Regions from separate parts of the Homo sapiens genome. Here region 2 is linked to region 1. The links come from fine-mapping of genetic effects on gene expression. Tissue or cell type: whole blood. Region 1 holds a variant in brackets; the other region holds the start of a gene. All regions are shown on one strand. Distances are from middle to middle.

The links. PIP is the estimated chance that this variant, and not a neighbour inherited with it, causes the effect. A credible set is the group of variants that fine-mapping cannot tell apart.
Region 2: it holds the start of THEMIS, and the variant in region 1 is the best candidate, but not a certain one, in a credible set for the expression of THEMIS in whole blood (INTERVAL, PIP 0.63).

Annotation. Positions count from the first base shown.
Region 1 is chr6:127,649,742-127,660,851 of GRCh38, forward strand. It overlaps the pseudogene LOC100421513. Among named protein-coding and RNA genes, the nearest start is that of LINC02536, 8.6 kb to the right of the region's middle. The variant C/T (reference allele first, on the strand shown) is at 6,274.
Region 2 is chr6:127,895,664-127,906,773 of GRCh38, forward strand. THEMIS (thymocyte selection associated) reads right to left here and starts at 5,395. Exons shown (of 6, transcript NM_001010923.3): 1 at 5,179-5,395. The coding sequence starts at 5,269.

The DNA.
Region 1 (11,110 bases):
AGTTGCAAAAGCAATTTAATGCAAGAGAAATTGCTTTTTAAATAAATGGTGCTGGAGCAGTTAGACATCCTTAGGCAAAAAGAGTCTCGACTAACTCTATAATACAATCTTCTACCAGAACTAACTCAAAGTACATAAGGAATGTAAATATAAAATATAAAACTATGAAATTCTAGAAAATAAATAGGTTAAAATCTTGGGCACCTAGAACTAGGTGAAGAGGTCTTAGACATGACTCCAAAAGTATAACATGTAAAAGGAAAATTGATCGGACATCTGGAAAATTTAAAAAATTCACTCTGTGAAAGAGTTTGTTAAAAAAATGGAAAGATAAGCTGACGACTGTGAGAAAATATTTGCAAACCACATATCCAACAAAATATCTAGAATATATTAAGATTTCTCAAAACTCAGCAATAAACAATCCAATTAGAAGATGAGAAAAAGACATAAACAGACATTTGATAGAAGAGATACTGATGCCAAATAAGCACATGCAAAGATGTGTAACATCATTGGCCATTGAAGAAATAAAAACTAAAACCACAATAAGATATGACTAATGCTCATCAGAATGGCTAAAATAAAAGCAATAATGATAACACAAACACTAGTGTGGATGTGGGGAGAGTGTCACTCATATGTGGTACATCAACTGTGAGAAATAATTTGGAGGTTATTTATAAACTAAAATGGACCTACCATATGACCTGGCAATTACCCTCTTAGGCATACATCTCAGAGAAATAACTTATTTTCCCTCAGAAAATTACGAATAGATATTCACAGCACCTTAATTTGTAGTACTCAGAAGCCCAAATGTGCTTCGGTGGTTGAATAATTAAGCAAAGGTGGTATATCTATGGCATAAACTCAGAAATAAAAGGGAATGAACCATTAATACACGCAGCAACTTGAATGAACCTTAAGGAAATTGTTTTTAATGGCAAAAAAGGCTAATATCAAAAGGAAACAGGTTGCATGTTTTCATTTACATAACACTTGTGAAATAGCTTAAGTATTGCCATGAAGTACATATTAGTTATTGCCAGGGCTCAGGGTGGGATGTAGGGTGGGTGTGGATATAAGTAGGTAGGATGAGGAAGTCTTGTGGTAATGGATGGTTAAGTATTTAATATCTTGATTTTGGTAGTGAACCAATGTCAACAGTCTGATGTTGATAATGTAAAATGGTGACATTGGGAAAGTATAGGTGAAAGGGTACACGTGAACTCCCTGTATTATTTCTTTTCACTTTACTATAAATCTATAATTATTGAAAAATTAAGTTTAAAAGATGAGGGTATATGTTGGTTTGTTATATATGGCTGAATTCTCCTGCAAGGGTTGTAATATTTTTCTCTGCACCAGTAATAACGCTTTTAAGTTGTCCATCTTTTTGCTAATTTTAGAGCAGAGAAATGGTATCCTAGTATTCATTTGCATTTCTCTTATTATGAATATGTTAACACAATGTCAAAGCAAATTCACATGAATCATAAAATTTTCCAACCTCAATCTTAACTAATGATTTTAAGGATTCAAGCCAGAAGTAGACATGGACAGAATTTAGTTTTAGATGACAGGGAGTTATTCATACACTGCATCCTAATTGTCTTTTTTTTCCCTAAAGTAATGTGCAGTTTCAACTTGGATTAACAGACATTTCTGAAGAATATATGCAAATACATTGTTTTCAAAGACATCAATTTCAGTTTTGGGGCTCCCCAGCTTTATGCTTTGTTACTTACACAGATAAAGAAATGCCTATATGATTAACTCCCATCACCAGCTCTGCCTCAGAAATCCATAAGCGTTATGTTTATTTGCAATAACTGTCCTGGTGCATGCCATCTGAATAAAAAGCATTTTTATAGACTGAATCTCTGTTATTCAGCCACTTGTTTACTAGGAGATCTGATATAGGTTGTTAACCTATGTGTAAAGAAATCTGGTGTAAGTTAATAATTACCATGGACATTCTGCTTAGGGAGGGATGAAGCACAAGTCTCTGTTAATTTATTTCCAAGGAATACAGTTAGCCAAGGCAATCCTAAGCAAAAAGAACAAAGCCAGAGGCATCGCACTACTTGACCTCAGACTATACTATAGGGCTACAGTAACCAAAACAGCATGGTACTGGTACAAGGGCAGGCACATAGACCAATAGAACAGAATAGAGAACCCAGAAATAAGGCCAGACACCTACAACCATCTGATCTTTAACAAAACTGACAAAAACAAGCAATGGAGTGAAGACTTCCTATTCAATAAACGGTGCTGGGATAACAGGCTAGCCATATGCAAAAGATTGAAGTTAGACCCCTTTCTTACACCATATACAAAAATCAACTAAAGATGGATTAAAGACTTAAATGTAAAACCCAAAACTATAACAATCCTGGAAGACAACCTAGGTAATACCATCCTGGACATAAGAATGGGTAAAGATTTTATGACAAAGACACCTGGTGCAACCTCAACAAAAGCAAAAATTGACAAATGGGATCTAATTAAACTTAAGAGCTTCTGCACAGCAAAAGAAATGATTAACAGAGTAAACAGGCAACCTACAAAATGTGAGAAAATATTTGCAAACTATGCATCTGACAAAGGTCTAATATCCAGCATCTATAAGGAACTCAAACAAATTTACAAGAGAAAATCAAACAACCCTATTAAAAAGTGGGCAAAAGACATGAATAGACAGTTTTCAAAAGAAGACATATATGGAGCCAATAATTATGTAAACAAAGCTCAACATCACTGATTATTAGAGAAATTTAAATCAAAGCCACCATGAGATACCTTCTCACACCAGTCAGAATGGCTATTAATAAAAAGTCAAAAAATAGCAGATGCTGGGGAGGTTGTGGAGGAAAAGAACACATACACTGTTGGTGGAAGTGTAAATTAAATTGGTTCAACCATCGTTGAAGACAGTGTGGTGATTCCTCAAAGACCTAAAGACAGAAATACCATTGGACCCAGCAATTCCATTACTGAGAGATACGGTTTGGCTATGTTTCCATTCAAATCTCAACTTGAATTGTATCTCCCAGAATTCCCACATATTGTGAGAGGGACCCAGGGGGAAGCAATTGAATCATGAGGGCTGGTCTTTCTCATGCTAATCTCATGATAGTGAAAATGTCTCATGAGATCTGATGGATTTGTCAGGGGTTTCTGCTTTTGCTTCTTCCTCATTCTCTCTTGCTGCCACACTGTAAGAAGTGCCTTTCACCTCCCACCAGATTCTGAGGCCTCCCCAGCCATATGGAACTGTATGTCCAAGTAAACCTCTTTTTCTTCCCATCTTGGGTATGTCATTATCAGTAGCATGAAAATGGACTAATATGCTGGGTACATACCCAAAGGAATATAAATCATTCTATTATAAAGACACATGCATGTTTATGTTCATTGCAGCACTATTCACAATAGTAAAGACATGGAATCAACCTAAATGCCCATCAGTGGTGGACTGGATAAAGAAAATGTGATACGTATACACTACAGAATACTATGCAGCCATAAAAATGAATGAGATCATGTCCTTTGCAGGAAAATGGATGGAGCTGGAGGCAATTATCCTTAGCAAACTAATGCTGGAAGAGAAAACCAAATACCACATGTTTTCACTTGTAAGTGAGAGCTAAATGATGAGAACACATGGACACATAGAGAAGAACGACACACACTGGGGCCTACCAGAAGGAGGAGAGGTGGGGGAGGGAGAAGATCATGAAAATAACTAATAGATACTAGGCTTAATACCTGGATGATGAAATAATCTATACAACAAACTCCATGACACATGTTTACCTATGTAACGAACCTGTGCATCCTACCTATGTACCCCTGAAATTAAAAGTAAAAAAAAATTAGAGGGTGTTGAAATTTTATTTTTATTTATACCTGGCTATTAAGAGGCAACATCTAAGCTCTTGGAATATTGTGCCTGATAAGAGTGTCTTTGTTTACTTGGGGCCTTGGGCACCCCATACAGTCTGTGTGAACAATATAATTTATGGAGTGGGCCTTGGTTCATGCAGTACCAGCCAGACCTGTGCAGGGGCTGGAGGTTCAGGTCAAGTACCCAGGAAGTCAATCATACCTATTTGACTTACCTCCAATAGAAACTCTGGACACACTGGGCTTGAGTGTGCTTCCCTGGTTGACGATAGACTGTATGAATTGTCACATATTGTAAAACAATAAAGTTGAGCATTTTTTCATGTTAAAGTAGCATTTGAATATCTATTTTACAAATTTCCTTTTCATGTCTTTTGCCTGTTTTTAAAATTGTGTCTTTTCTGTTTCAGTTGATTTTTAAGATTTTCTTTCTCAAAGGGAAACTGCAACAACACAACAACAACAACGAAAATGTACCTAGAAAGGATAAAAGGGTCCCTGGGGACAAATCATTGTGATGTGGAACCAAAATACATCATAAGCATAATTAACATGGTCCAGGACAGCATAGAACATCTATATCAGTCTTCCTTATACAATAATCACGAAAACTGATCAATGAATTTCTTTAACATGTACAAAAAACTGTCATGGGCTGGTTTAAACTTTTGCAACAGTTTTAAAGTTAACAGGATAACTAAAGAAATGATGCAGACATTTTAATCCAGTGCTATAGGTAGGCTCAAAGAATTAGACTCAAAGATTTGTAAAAATAAAAATGAAAACAGTATAGCTACAATGTCAAAGTCAGGAAAGAAGAAAATTTACTTCTGTATTCAAGGATTACAGTGGTACGAAATGCAGTCTGCGTGTTTTTGTTTGTAATGAGATGGATAAGTACATCAGACTAGATACAACATGCAGAATATTTTCCTGAACTTACCCAGAAATTCTAAAGAAAACATCACGAAACAGCTCACTAGAAAAAAAAAATGCCCTAGTTATTTACCCTGCTTCAACACTGTTAACGTAAAGGCAGAAATAAAGAAAGCTATCAATACCTCAGAACTACTGATATAAGACATCACATTTCTAAATCAGTGTATTCAAAAAGTGAACACTTTCTCTTTTTTCTCTCTTCTACATTTAACTAGAATCATGTTTTAAAAAATTGATATTAAATGTGACACTTCAGAGCTACTACTAGAAGCAGTAATTCATAACTTGCCTACCCTCCTTCCATCCCTGCTGATTCAGGAGAAGGGGGAAAAAACAAAGAAAACAAAACAAAAAACTAACCAGGGTGTCTTGTAGATTTGCTGCTATGCCACAAAATGTTGGCATTTGCTGCCATGCCACAATGTTGGTCCACTGAAATAGGATTTCTGCGGAAACTGTCAACAGTAATTCACCATATGCAAGTACCATCCTTAGCATGTGAGAATAATAACAGGTTCTGTAGAAATGTACAATGTGCTGAAGATAATGAAAATTGTAGCACTGCATTTGAGATTTATTTGTCTACTTATCTAGTAAAACTTGTCATTTTTGCTCACTTAATTATGGTCATTTGTGATTCCTTTAAATAGCAAAAATGCACAGTGCCCTTTAGGCCTCTACTCAATAATAGTTTACATTACTCTTAACAAAATCATTCTACATAAACTGATAGCTCCTTAAAAAGAGTACTCTCTCATTAAATCTAATTTGACAGAAAGAAGTTTAAGGAAAAAAGGAGTGTTTTATAAGTGAAAAACTACAGATCTTTGGCCTTTCTCTTGACATTTTCATATGTCAAAAAGCAAAAATACCTTCAGGTAATTCAATCTAGTGATTACTTTTTGCACCATAATTTGTTTTTTACACCACAAGAGGAGTCACTTTCAGTATCTGTAAAAGGTATTTAATCCTAAAACATACTTACCTAGAGAATAATTAAAACAATTCAATACACTCTAATATCTATTAGGAAGTTAAGAGTTACCAGTTTAAAAGTCTTTTGAAAGTCAATGATGTTACCTGGTCAATGGCAGGAAATAGGGATTGGAACAAATATAAGAACTTATGGGATTTCCTACATGAAGGCGAAAAAAGATATTCCTTTATGTTGTTTAAAAGTAGCAGCTACTCTTTCTTTATTTCATTTTAATCAATTAGTATTCATTCAAGTTTTCCCTTCTATTTTTCCTTGTAAGTTTCTTACAGTAGCTTATACAACAATGAATAGCAAACAAAAACTACTGGATTCAATTGATCATCAGAAATAAGTTCTCAGAAAAACACAGGTGGAAAAATGAGCGAGAATCCCAAATACAGAAATTTACAAGGTGTGAAACTTCATCTCTTGCAATCGTGTTA[C/T]TGCTCAAATTAGAGACAATCTTATTTCTATCTATTGGAGCAGCATCTTGGCACATCAACAGGCAATGATGAGGTTGAGAACAGCAGCAAAAATAAACAATCGTATGCTCATGAAGAACCCAAGCCTACCAGATGGATGCCTTTCAGAAAAGCGTATACTTAAAAGACCCAAGACGTCAGGATGATAAAGCTCTGTATTTATAGTCTTTTATATGTCCTTTTGTATGTCCTATTGTGGCTACTATGCTTAAGTAAAATAGCTACAGGAAAAAAAAAAAAGATGACAATATAATAAAAATGTAGCTGTCTCTTTTGGCAGCTATATTGCAGAATTTCTTGACTATCTTTTGATCAGCTGGGGAAAAGTCAATAACTGAATGCAAACGAATAAATTGTCCATATAAAAATACAAAAGTACTGTCAATAATCACCTCTGACTTTCAGGTTTAAATTCAGTGCAATTGACAAATGCATTGCTAAAGGAAAATGCAACTTAAAAGATACTCAAAACATTTGGGTCTATTGCTGGGACCACATTTCAAAATTCTTGCACAGATTTTTTTTAATTTTAATTTTAATTTTTAAACAATAACAGAGATCAACCACAGATGTGGACCTCTAGCAATAAAAGCAGGAATTCAAGTGCCAGATATTCAGCATATTAGGTTTCCTACAGAAGTCACAGGTTAAGAAGTTCTAAATATCTCTAATGTGATTCAAAACCCTAAAAAGAGCTGGCACAAAACCATCGTGAATGACTGCCTCTACTGATGCAAATTTTTTTTTTTTTTTGAGATGGAGTCTCACTCTGTCATCCAGGCTGGAGTGCAATGGTGTGGTCTCGGCTCACTGCAACCTCCGCCTCCTGGGTTCAAGCGATTCTCCTGCCTCAGCTTCCTGAGTAGCTGGGACTACAGGCGCATGCCACCTCACCCGGCTAATTTTTGTATTTTTAGTAGAGACGGGGTTTCACTATGTTGGCCAGGCTGGTCTCCAACACCTGACCTCGTGATCTGCCCACCTTGGCCTCCCAAAGTGCTGGGATTACAGGCATGAGCCACCGCGCCAGGCCTGTATGTAAATTTTTAAAAATATTATTACGGTATCATAGTCCCCACTAACAACAACTGGGATACATATAACAATGTATTGTGAAATTAAGTGTATTTATAATCTCTACCAATAGCAAATGCTACCCTACCTTGGTAAAACCAAGAGTTGCTTCAATCAATGCTGTTTTGTAAAAATAGCAAAGCAACAATTGCTGAAAATCAAAGTTGCATTCCTTGGGTTAAGCCAGTTTCTACTTAAACTTTAGTACTAAAAGGCCTCAAAATAATTCATGACAGAAATAGTGTTATTAATTTGCCAAGCTCAACAATAAGGAATTCCTTGATTAAAATCTTTGAGATATAAATTTGATGACCTTTCTCTTTAGAGATGACATACCTGGATTATACTAATCATGACAAGCCTTATTAGTCACACTTATAAACATGGCCTCATGCAATCGTTTGTCTGTATATGTTACTCTTAGTTGCATGAGAACAAGAGGTTTAATTTAATGTCTATGTCTTTAAGAAAATACTTGATATTATAAACAGAGTAAAAGACATGATAAAGTAGTGATACTGAAACAAAAATTAGCTGCTTAAATCTATCTATATTTGAAAAAATGTAGTCACAAGTATCACAAGTGCAGAATCAGAGCAGCAGGCAGAAGGTTAGTGCAATTATACTTTCATAAAAAAAAAAATCGCAATCACTGCTATTTAAAAACACCTTGAAGCAAGTCTTTTGTTTTAGAGATTGTTTTTTAAACTAAGGTAGCAAACATTTTGCCATGTAATGGAAGTGTTATATGCCGTTATCTTGCTTTGTATAAAGAAAACAACATGAGAGATTTCTAATAGTGGAGTTTGGTTACATTACATATTTAAGCTTCTACACAGAATGATAGACAATTCGAGAAGCGAATCCTTACCCAGAAACATTTCAATCTCTCAAAAAAAAAGCAAAACAAACAAACAAACAAACAAACAACAAAAAACCCAAAACTACTTTGCTCCTTTTCACAATAGTGCACATTTTTACCATAATTTATTTATGGCTACAAAACATCAGAAGTGGTTTTTTTTTTTTTTTTTTTTTTTTTTTTTTTTTTTTTGAGTTGGCGTCTCGCTCTGTCACCCAGGCTGGAGTGCAGTGGCGCGATCTCTGCTCACTGCAACCTCCGCCTCCCGGGTTCAAGCGATTCTCCTGCCTCAGCCTCCTGAGTAGCTGGGATTACAGGCGCCCGCCACTGCGCCTGGCTAATTTTTGTATTTTTGGTAGAGATGGTGTTTCACCATCTTGGCCAGGCTGGTCAAGAACTCCTGACCTCAGGTGATTCACCCGCCTTGGCCTCCCAAAGTGCTGGGATTATAGGTGTGAGCCACTGCATCCAGCCAATTTTTTAAAAAGGTATTTTCTCTATGGTAATTAAAACAACAACAACAACATTTTGTGCCCTTCTAGTCTTTAATTGGTAGAAATATGTCCCCCAAAAGAAACTATTGCATTTATGCCACATCGCCTAAAAAGAAAAAACAAACAAACAAAGAACCAAAACCAACAGAACATAATACACCTTTTATGGATGTGTCTTACAGACTGACATGACCAAAGTCATGTTTTCATTTAATTTCCAATTCTCCCTTCCACAACATGCACCAATTGAATATGTGCTCTGGGAGCCATAAAATGTACCAAACATCTACCTCTTCAAAAGAATGCATTAAAATATTTTAAAGAATTTTTTGTTGTTTAAAAGCTGAAAAAATATAAACAAGAAACTGATTCATTCCCTTACTTCATGCACCCATAATCTAAACCAAAAACAAAATTTTAAAGCAAGAACAAACTACCACTGCAAGTTTTTGTGTCCATTTTCTCTGTACATACAAACTGCTCACTACTGAAGGGAAAAAAGAATATAATCCTTGGTGTCTGCGGATTCAAAGGGGAGAAACGAGGCTGTCAGGTGGTATCCAAAAACTGGTACATGTATGTTCTGCTTTTATAATGTGTATTTTTCTCTCTTCTGTTTTTCATATCCAAAACTTCTAAATGCTATTTTAGGGGCACAGTAGATTAGATTCCAGCACTTGGTGAACAGAATTCACAAGCTGTGACAAAACTGTCATCTTCAGGGTGCAATTTTGTTTATATACATTGTATGTATATATTTCTTTCTGTTTTTCTTTTCTTTTCTTTTTTTTTTTTGAGAAGGAGTCTCGCTCTGTTGCCTAGTCTGGAGTGCAGTGGCACAATCTCTGCTCACTGCAACCTCCGCCTCCCAGGTTCAAGCGATTCTCCTGTCTCAGCCTCCCGAGTAGCTGGGACTACAGGCACGCACCACCATGCCCGGCTAATTTTTGTATTTTTAGAAGAGACAGGGTTTCACCATATTGGCCAGGCTTGTCTCGAACTCCTGACCCTTGATCCGTCTGCCTCTGTCTCCCAAAGTGCTGGGATTACAAGCATGAGCCTCTGCGCCCAGCCTATATTTCTTTTAGATTTGGCTGTAGTCGACTGGCCATGGTTCAAGTGGGACTATAGCAGTACGTGGGTCAGGGACAGTCATTTTGGCTATGTACACATTCATAGTTGGTCCATGGCTTCCAACTAGTAGCGCTATTTCCGAAAGTCTAATACACAAACTGAACCATCTGATGCACTGGCTCCAACTTTGTCTCCTGCGGCATTCCAGCAAACTTCAAAAATTCCATCTGTTCCCCTACAGTGTGAACTAGAGCACCTGTCTGTGTGTTCCAGATGTGTACACATTTGTCAAAAGAATTGCTGGCCAGATACCGGCCATCAGGACTGAAAGCTACACTGTACACAGGCTTCTCATTCAGCATTTACCTTCGGTATAGAAAGCCGTATCAGTCAGTCCAATATAAATGGTGCCCTCGTCCCACCTGCTGCATTGATTTCTATCATCCAGAAAGGTCTACAGTATGTAGAAGCAGAAGTTAGTATTAATGAGGATGGTACTTTCTTTGATGGTCGACCAATGAGTCTGTCCCTGATAGACGCCTTAATGCCTGATGTAGTACAAACAAGACAACAAGCTTATAGCGATAAGCTTAAACAGCAACAGGCAGCAGCTGCCACAGCCAACCAACAAGGATCTGCAAAAAAAAAAAAAAAAAAAAAAAAAAAAAAAAATGCAGAAAACACAGCAAATGGGGAGGAGAATGGAGCACATATTATAGCAAATAATCATACTGATACGATGGAAGTGGATGGAGATATTGAAATCCCTCCTAATAAAGCAGGACAAGGATAAATTCATGTCCTTTGCAGGGATGTGGATGAAGTCCTGTTGGACTCCATTTGATAGGATAAATTTCTTTATTATGTGCTTGCAAATCATGGACACAATTGTCTTGTTTCATACTCCATATCTTTAAAGTCATGTCATCAGAACAAGAGGCCAGGAGATTGCCAGTTGGGTCCCATTTGATAGCATTTACTTCATTCTTATGTCCCTGGAATGTTTTAATAGGTCTGTCTTGTGACCCAGTGATCCCATTACTCAGTATATACCCAAAGGATTATAAATAATGCTACTATAAAGACACATGCACATGTATGTTTATTGCAGCACAATTCACATTAGCAAAGACTTGGAACCAACCCAAGTGTTCATCAATTAGGAAAATGTGGCACATATACACCATGGAATACTATGCGGCCATAAAGAAGGATAAGTTCATGTCCTTTGCAGGGACGTGGATGAAGCTGGAAACCATCATTCTGAGCAATCTATCCCGAAGACAGAAAACCA
Region 2 (11,110 bases), 250 kb after region 1:
TGAGAGATAAACTATGCTCATGGATAAAAAGACTTTACTATTAAAAAATTGAAGTCATAATTTAAAACATTTCTATATTAGAAATCTCAGCTCAGGAGGCCTTCATTGAAAATTCTACTAAATATTTAAATAAGCGATAACACCAAAGTTACATAAAATCTTTAGGAAAATAACAAAAGACTCCAACCAAGAAGTTCCGTAAGTTCAACTAACTTGATAATAAAGCCTGGCTAGGATATTACAAAAAAATAAAAACTATAAGCCAATATTATTCCCTAAAAGAGATACAAACATTCTAACAAAAAAAAATAGTAAGCCAAATTCAGTGAAATATGACCCCATTGGTTGTGTTCCACAATTAAAAGCATGTTTAACACTTTTTAATGTAAAAAAAACTATGTAATTATCATAAAAGTTACAAAAAGAATATTTGATAAATGTCAAATATATATTCAAGTTTTTAAAACCTGTTAGAAAACTAGAACTAATTTAACCTAAAACAAACATCATGAATGGTGGATTACTGAAAATTGCTCTCAGTGGTCATGAATGAAATACAGAGATCTTTTTTTTATCATTACCTCTATTCAGTATTATAGTAGAAGCAAAATCCATCAATATTCACAGACAATGCAAATGTACACATAACATATACAAAATGTTAAAGATATATTCTTAAAATTCAATAAGTACAACAAAGAGAAAATGATTTTAAAAATACCATTTAAAATGGCATGAAAAAATCAAATAACTAAGAATAAATCTGAAAAAATACAAGATCTGTACAAAAAATTATAAAATGTTATTGACAGAAATGAAATAGACTTAAATAACTAAAGAGCTATACCAGATTAGTGGGTCAGAAGACTTAATTTAAAATGATGCCAATTTTCTCCAAACCAAAGCACAGCTAATCAAAATTCCAGGAGGACTTTTGAGGAAGTTGATAAGTTAATTCTAAAATGTATGTGAAAATTCAAAGTGCTAAACTTAAAGAGGAATAATAAATTGAGAGAACTTGTTCTAAAGCAGTAGTTATCAAATTTGGCTGTGTGTTATAATCATCAGGAAGATTTTCAAAAACTGATGGTGATGCCTTACCTTTTACATAATTAAATCTTTACCTCTTGAGGAGAAACCTAGGCATTTATATTTTAAAATCAATCCAGGTATTTTTATTTCACAACCAAGTTTGAGAACCATGGCTCTGTAGCATATTATTAAATATAATCTAATAGAAAGTATATATTAGATATTGCATATCCACATTATTTAAGACAGGAAAAATTGATGTAAGGATAGCAAGTAGATGAATAGAACAGCATAAAAGGGAAAAGACCCAGGCATGTATGGACACTATTTCTGAGTAAGGTTAACAGAGTAAGATGATAGAGAAAAGGCAGCTTTTCAATAAATGTCACTGCACCAATTGACTCTGTAGAAGAGAAAAATAAATATTGCTCTCAACTTCAAACCATATACAAAAACATAAACCCAGATAGACTACAGATCTGAAGGTGAGGGTAAACAATAGGATTTCTAGAAGATAATACATATTTTCATGAACTTAGGGTAAAGAAAAAAATTGTTGACAACACAGAAAAAGGAAAATATAAACTGACTACACTAACACGAAAGTGGAAAACTTTCGTCCATTAAAAGACACAATTTTGAAAATAAAATATGAAACTATAGACTAAGAAAGTAATTTGCAACACAGAAAATTGACAAAGAGTAAATATCCCAAATATATATATACACATAAACTCCATCAAATCAATAACAAAAATGTATAAAATTCAACAGAAAAATGAGCAAGAAATATAAACCACCTCTGCAAAAAAGAGTATTTCCAAAAATCCAAGAAATATATGAAAAGGTGCTCAATCTTATTAGTCATCAAGGAGATGAAAACTAAAACCATGAGCTACCACTATACTCTTGCCAGAATGACTAAAATTAAGAAGACTGATAATATCGTGTTACTAAGCATATGAGTTAATTGGAACACAAATATACTGCTTGTAGGAAAGTAAATTGGGTTACTTAAGAAACTTGCTTTTCATTAGCTTCCAAGGGTGAATGTACACACACAATATGACATAGTAATCCTACTTACTTTTATGCCCTACTTAATGCATATACACGTAGGCACACATGTACAAGAATTTTCATGACAAAATTACTGGAAACTCCAAGCCAGAAATAATCCAAATGCCTATTGGCAGTAGAATTAATACATAAATTGTAGTATATTCATCTAATGGAATAACATACACTGAAAATGAATGAACTATATATAAAACAGCATGGATTAGTTTCACAAATATAATGTTAAACAGATATACCAACCAGAAAAGAATACATACTGTAATTTTCCATTTATGTAAGGGTCATAAATGGACAAAAGTCATGATAGTGGTTACACTTGAGGGAGATAGTATATAATGACTGAGAAAGAGCACAGGATAGGGCTTCTGGAATACTTGGAATTTTCTATTTCTGGACCAGGGTGGCAGTTACATGAATGTGTTTACACTGTGAAAATGATCAAGGTATTTAGTTTTTTCCCTCTTAATTGAAGTAAAACATAGTAGTAAAATAATAAGGTATGAAGAAGATGGTCTGGACACATAGAGGGACACTACATTCTTTCTTAAAACAATATAGAATGTCAATTCTTTCCAACTTAATCTACCAAATCAATAAATCCAATAAAAATCCCAGTTAGATTTCTTATAGAATCAATTGATTTAATAAAAACTCATTGAAAAAGTTATGAGATATTATCTCACTTCAGTTAAAATAGCTTTTATCAAAAAGATAAAAAATAATGGATGTTTGAGAGGATGTGGAGAAAAGGGAACGTTTATACTCGATGGGAATGTGTATCAGTACAGTCACTATGAGAAACAGTGTGAAGTTTTCACACACACACACACACAAAAATAGAACTACTTACAACCTAGTAATCCCACTGCTGGATATATATTCAAAAGAAAAGATATCAATATATTACAGATACCTGCATTCACATGTTTTTACAATAGCCAAAATATGAAATCAACTTAAATGTCCATCAACAGATGAATAGACAAATAAAATGTGGAATATTATTCAGCCATAAAAAAGAATGAAATCCTGTCATTTGCAACAACATGGATAGAACTGAAGGACATTAGGTTAAGTGAAATAAGCCAGGCACAGAAAGACAAATATCACATGTTCTCATTAATTTGTGGGAGCTAAAAAAATTGATATCATGGAGATAGAGAGTAGAATGATGGCTACCAGGTGCTGGGAAGGGTAGTGGGAGGGGGATAGAGAGGGGTTGGTTGATTAATGGGTACAGAAACACAGTTAAAAGGAATAAGATCTAGTGTTTGGTAGTACAATAGGGTGACTATAGCTAAAAATAATTTACTGTATATTTCAAAACAACTAGAGTAGTGGAATTGGAATGTTCCTAACATGAAGAAATGGTAAAAGTTTGAGGCAATGAATAATATCCCCATTACTCTGACTTGATTATTACACACTGTATCAAAATATCACATGTATCCCATAAATATGTATATATATTATGTATCTATAAAAACATTTTTAAAGTCTATGAATATCTAAGCCAATTTAGGAAAAAAGGATTGAAAACAAGGGATTGGTCTATACATCATTTCTATATTAACATGTATTGCAAGGCCATAGTTACAAAAATAGTGTGTTTGGGGGCAGCTAAGAAAAAAAATAAACTAATGGAATAGAAGAGATATTTTAGAGACAGACTGATACAGAGGTGAACATATAATATGATTTGAAGGAGGCAACAAAAATCAATGGCGGAAAGATTGTCAGCTTAGCAAATGGTACCTGGAAATCAGGTGAACTGTATAGAGAAAACTAAAATTGGATCCCTGTACAATTCATAACATTGTCCTCCAAATAGACTAAAAACTAAATGCAAAATATGAAACCGTAAAGTTGATAAAAACAACATAGGAAAATATCTTTTTAAAGTAGACATAAAGAAAGACTTTTTACGTAAAGCCTAAAAAACACAAACCATGAGACAAAAAATGATTTGGGGCTGGCTTAGAAATAGAGACATTGATAATATGATTATACACGGCAAAACATAGTCTGATTCCAAAAATCAACTTACAAATTAGTTAAATAAAACTGTACACTAAGCTGATAACAGCCCATATCAATTCATCACCTGCAAGTATGTGTGTGTATATTTTATATATATATATATATATATAATATATATAAAAACTGGAGCTGACGTGTTAATCTTTCTTTTACTTTGCAACATAATATGTAATACATTATTTTGTCTACGAACAAGAAAGACCTGCCTACCAACAGTTAAGTTATTTTCCTGGTAGTTTTGTCTTGATCTGTTTCTACAACTGCTTCAATTCTACCACTCTTGAGGCCAGAAATACACCTACAGAATTATTAATTGTATTCTATGTATTCAAACTAACCATGTAAAGATTCTAGGTTGTATATTGGAGGTTATAATGTTCTTTCACCTGAATTAACATAGTGAGTTACACCAAAACTCACTATCTTATTATTCAATAAGTTTAATTGAACTCTGAGTTTCAACATCAATTTTTAAAAATTATCTTGTAGCAATAATTTCTATACCTTCAAATTAAAATTTTCATTATTTAAGGAATTTGGAGTTAGGCCACTACAGAGTGAGAAAAACATTGGTATAAGCAACATTTAGGAGCTAAAAGTTTGGGAAATATTTGGAAATACTTCTTTCTAAACACTGTGCCTTTGATAGTTGCTTTTGTTTTAGCAAGCTAAATTTTATTTTTTATATTGTGGAAACATAAATATTGATAACTAAATTTATTATTCTTGATTACAACCAATTTCAAAGCAAAGGCAGAAATAGTTCACCATTCAAGGCCTACAGAAAGCTCAAGAAGCTTCACTCAATTCCTTATTTCTGTCTGTCCCAGAGTCCTGTCTAGTTTCTCCCCTCTCCAACACCATTGGCTTTTGACGATTCGTTGGTCAGTTCATTACTTTCTTTTGTGATCGCCTTTCCTTTACCAGAACTCACATATTTGCTGTTAAAATTCCCCCCCTCCAATTTTCAAAAATGTATACTTTACAAGAATGTTCTAGCCAGTAAAGGTATTGGAGAGTGCTTACCTTCAAGATAGATGCCTGCCTGGATTTCTAGAACCCTGGGTAGGGTCCTGAGGTCAAGGGAGTGGACGAATTCTTCCAGTGATAATGCCATTGCTATGCCTTGGGTAGTTTGTAGACCTGGTGCTCACAGAAACTTGTGGCTTCTGGGTGACACTTGTCTGCAATTGCAGCCCCTGCTCACCATTTCTTCCTCAGGCAGGCAGGAATGTCACACTACAGCCAGAGTGGGGTGGAGTAGCTCTATGTGGGGAGGACAATGAAGAGGGAGGGGGGAAGCAGGAGACAAAAAATGTTATAGCTCTTTTTGTTCACATTGTGGCTTCATTTCCTTCTGACATTGAAGTTGAACAGGATGGGGGTGGGGTGAACAGACACTGCCCAAAAAATGAGACGTGCTAAGTAGCGCATTCTGTCCTTTGTTAATCCAGGTGTGCATCTACTATGGTAGCAAAACTGAGGTCAGAGTTGCTTGTGGCTTGCCCACCAACAAAGAACAGGAATATAGGACTAAAGTCTAATCTTAAAAATGGCACCATGTGAATTCATTATCTCTCTAGTTCATTTCTAAAGCTTGGCTTTGTGCCTTATTTGCATACTGTCAGTGCCTTTACATTAAAATTGGTAATAAAAGTGCTTTGCGTCAGCTCTTTTTAGAATTCTGATACTATACTCTGGAGAGAGTATTGAAACCACTTTTTATTCTTCCACATTAAAAATTTTGCTGAATCTTAAAGGAGGGTAGGGTAGGGATAGAATATGCAAAATGATACAGTAAATTAACAAAGTACATTAAAATGAGTTTTCTAATCTCTACACTATAGTAGAAAGTATTAAAATTACTTGTCAGGAAACCTGCATTTTCTGGGTTTAGTTCTGCTTTTGATTTACAGGCTAACGTCAGCCTTGTCTTCTCTGATTTTCATTTGTTTTATTTACTAAATGGAGATGAAGTAGAAGAGTCCAATAAATTTTATAATTTCTTCCAAGTTCACAATTCCACAATTCTGATCTTATTGTTGAAATTTAGGAGGGGAAATGATCAGCACCAAAGGAAGCAGGAGAAAACTCATGAACATTGATCTCTTCAAAATCCTGCCCCTCTCTATTTTTTGCATGTAACTGAAACAATATTTAAAATATATACAATTAAAGGTGGTAGTTCCTAAGTCTCTTTAAGGTAAAGTAGAAGAATATTGGTTGAGGCTGGGTACGGTGGCTCATACCTGTAGTCCCAGCACTTTAGGAGGCTGAGGTAGGAGAATTGCTTGAGCCCAAGAATTCAAAACCAGCCTGGGCAACATAGTGAGACTTTGTCTCTACAAAAAAATTAAAAAATTAGCCAGGCATGGTGGCACATGCCTGTAGTCCCAGCTGTGAGGAGGCTGAGGAAGGAGGATCACTTGAGCCCTGGAGTTTGAGGCTACAGTGAGTTGTGAACATGCCACTGCATTCCAGGCTGAATGACACAGCAAGACTCTGTCTCAAAAAAAAAAAAAAAAAAAAATAAAGAATACTGGTTGGTATGTATACACTTGAAAGATGACAGGAATCTACACGTTTTCTTTAGTAACCAAACCCAGGCACTTATCTATTAACTGTTTTGGCCTTAGGCTGCAGAGAGCATAGCCACATACAGAGGGTCAGGGGACATCTCAGTTCTACCATGGCCATCATGTAAATGACCTAGAAAGATAAAAACTGCCTAGTTTTGATATGGAGCTTATAAAACTGTTTCAACTCTTTGTAATCCTATTTGACATTTTCAATAATCAGTCCAGCTTCATTTCTTTCTTTATAAAAGTAGAATTTACGATTGACCACATCAACAGGTTTACTATCATTAGATTCAAATTCCTCACTGGCAACTTTTTTGTCCAAAAATGTCCTACCCTTGATCTGTCTGCCTTCCATACCCCTCCCCACAGTTTACAGCCTAGTAGTGTATTTCATGTGGATGAATACATGAAAGAGGCTTCTGTGGACTGCTCCTTAAAAATTATGAATCCGTTAGAACTGATGCCACAATACATTTCATTTGATATCTAATGCAAGCTGGATATCACTTATTTTTTTAATATTCCCAAGTCAAATTTCTATCCTACTAGCCAAACAGCCATTTCGTATCACCAATCTCTTACAATTACCTAGGCTCCATCTGCTTCTGCTCTCGCGACAGATGACGCTCTCTCTGTGATAATCATCTTCGTATTCTCAGTCTTAATTAATGACACTGCTATTCTCTTAGTTTCCCAAGCCGGAAGGCTTAGAATCATGTGAGATGCCATTTTTTTTCTCTAGCCGTTAAATCCATCAGGCCCTATAGATGGCAATACTCAGTACCACTCACTCTGTCTTTGCTCTATATCCCCACTGCTACTGCTTTAGACCAGATCGTAATCACTTCTGACACACAGGCAAAAAAATCCTGATGTGAGCAGCCAAGTTAAGGTTGACAAAGAAGAGCAATGAGTTCAAGAGTACTTGAATCATCAAGTAAAATGAATTATTGAAGTTTGGTCATTAGAACAGCATGTTATAGGTGTAATAATAGATTAACGAGAATTTTAAAAAAAAAACTAGACTGTATATAATAATTTACTATTTGAAAAAGGTGAAATTCCAAGGCAGTGGGAAAGAATGTTTTATTCAACAAATGGTTGTTAAATAATTGGGGAGAAAATTTCCCTAACTTTCCATGCAATGAAATTAAAGTTAGATACATTTTAAAATTAAATTTAAATAAAAATAAACCAGAGGGGAAAAATAGGAAAATGTCTGGAAAAGGGTAAGAAAATAACTATTTCTGAGTAGTAATTGAAGGAAAAAACTAATAATATATTTGACAACTAACTTATGAAATACTCCTGTAAATCAAAAAGGAGTTTGAACAAAATAGAAAAAAAAAAAAGCACATCCTTCAAATAAACAATGGCTTAGGTGGGTAAAGGCCACTTGTTAGTCAATATGCAAAATAAAAATATTCAAAGACTTCTATTTCTGGCTATGAGCTTGTATCTGACCACGTTTTCTACCAAAGGCACCTAGAAGAGCTGTATACTTTTTAAAAAAGCTGTTTTAAGAAACAAGAGAGCTGTCAGGGTGCAGAACATGAGAGGCCAAGATCCTGTAAAGCAGAGCAGAACCATTAGAGGAACTCCATATTCTGCACTTCTTTTCCCTCAAGGCTTTTATGGGTTAGTAACTGGCACCAAGAGAGAGTCTGAGAAGGCAAAAACTGGTGGCTCAGGAGGAGAGAACCTGAGTTGAGTTTTTGGCAGTTTCACATAGCAAAAGAGACCAAAATAAATTGGACTTTGGGAAGTAGCAATTCCTCCAGGAAAAGTCAGAGAAAGGTATTGCTCAGCACCACTTTTTCCCCTTAAAATTTTTTTGCTCATTGAAAGCAGTACAGGGTTGATTGTATGAGACACAAACAAGAGCATGGTTGGTAGGAAGCTGAAGAAGCCAAGGAGTGCTTTCAGCAGTCTTGCAGAACTGGGAAGCCAGGGCCAGCCAAGGAGGGAGCAGGAGTCACAACAAATGCCTGTGTTCTCAGTTGGGGCTCCTGAAGGCTGCTTCCTAAGAGAAAGGGTTGCCTATAAATAGAACTAGCTTTACAAAAACTGAAGCTTAGACTAAAATTAGCTCAATCCCTCATTGGATTAAAGTGGTCTGCCCCTATTCTTGCTGCCAGATAGAAGCAAATGTAAATCCTCCTGTTGAGGAAAAGCAGCCAGAACTTCTGTAATATTTAAAAATACAACATCTATAATTAAGTATGAAATGAATGGGAATGCCAGAAGACAGGACAGAGAAAGACAGAGAGAAGGGAGACCACAGAAACAAACTCATGGGGTAATTCCGATATTGGAATTATTAGTCCTGCAATTTAAGATAATTTTGATAAACATGTTCAAAACTAGAAGACAAGAAGGAGAAAAGAACTGCCATCTATAGAAAGTATCGGATGAAAATTCTAGAGTTAAAAAATACAGTAACTGAAATTAAAAATTCAATAATTGGTTTTAACAGCAAATGGGACATACAGTAAGAGAGGATTGTTGAACTGGAAATGGGAGCGTAGGAAATATCTGCTCTCTCTCTTTCTCTCTCACTCTCTCTCTCTCTATCTATCTATCTCTGTGTCTCTGCAGAGAGATATTTCAGCCATAGTGGAAAGATCTTATATGTAAACTGAGTCCCAACGTGAGAGGAGAAATAATAGTGGGAGAAGAAATATTTTAAGAGATAATAGCTGAAGATTTTCCAAAGTTGAAAAAGGCATCAATCCATAGATTCAAGCCTTGCCAACACCACCAAGGAGGATAAATGCAAAAGAAGGCACACTAAGGAACATCATACTAAAACGTTAAAAAGCCAAAGTCAAAGAGAATATCTTAAATGCACTCTGAAGAAAAGAAATTGTCACTTTCAAAGGATCACCAATAAGATGATAGCTGACTTACTAACAAAAACCAATAAGGGTAGAACACAATGGAATACCATCATTAAAATGCTGAAAGAAACCAACTACCAACTTGATATTCTAAATCCAGAGACGCATGAAAGCAACAGCAAAATAAAGACATTTTCAGACAAACAAAAACTAAGAAAATTCATCACCAGTAAACTCTCACTAAAAGAAATACTATAAAGGGTGTTCTGCAGGCGAAAGTAAAATGATCTCAGACAGAAAGTCAAGACCACAGGAAGGAATGAAGAGGGTGAATATGTCAGTGAACTGAATATATTGAGTTCCCAAAACAATAATTAATGGCTTGTGGAGTTTTGAATATATCTGCACTATATATAGTTCATGCAATATATTGTAAAATATAGCAGTAATGCAAAAGCAAAACTGATAATGAAGTTAAAATGTTCTAAAGCATTAGCCTTCTAGAGAAGTTGCAAAAGTGATGTTTAATATCAGAGTTAAATAAATAAAAACACATGTAATTTCTAGGAAAGCCACTAAAAATGGTAAATGAATGATAAAATTAATTAATCCAAAAAAGACGAGAAAGAAAAGAAAAAGAACCTCAAAATTGCTAGCAAACATTATGATGGTATACATAAACTCAATTATACTCTTAAAATAATTTAAATGAAATAATTACATTTAAATGAAATAATTTAAATGTAATTAAATGAAATAATTTAAATGTAATTTAAATTAAATAATTTAAATGAAATAATTTTTACAAATAAAAATTAAATAGTTTAATAGTTCAAGTAATAAACTAATGTTGGCAGATAACATTTAAACACATAAATCTACTTAAAAATATACAATTTAGTTATAAGTTTATAGAAAGTCTAAAGATGAAAAAATGGGAAAATAAATACCATAAGACATTAAGCAAAAGAAAGCTCATGAAACTACATCAATATTACATCAATTAGATTTAAAGACAAGAAGGATTATAAAAGATAATAAGGTTATTTGTTTAATAATGAAAGGGTGACCAATTCTTAAAGAAAATTCACAGCTTTCAATAATATACCTTCAAAATATCTAAAGCAAAATTGACCAAATGAATGGAATCAGAGTAAAAACCAACCTGACAGAAAAAGCAAATATTTATTTCATAAAATTCATACTGTTAATGGTGCAATGTTTAGTCACTCATCTATATTACAAACTGTTGTGATCTATCTTGAAATCAATTTGATGTAGCAATTTCACATTTAGATATAATCAGATACACACAAAGATTTATTTATACCATCAACTGAAGCATTTATTACTTTAATGACCAAAAAAAGGAGGAGAAAAGAAAAGAAAATGCATTTCACATTACCCTAATAATTCAAACAGGGAAGTTCCTGTTGGAAAAAAAATATTGTCCTCACACCAGTCTTGCTACTACTTAACACATCTTTTTAAAATTTCTGCTAAAGAACAGAGAAGGACTTGGCTATGAAATGATGA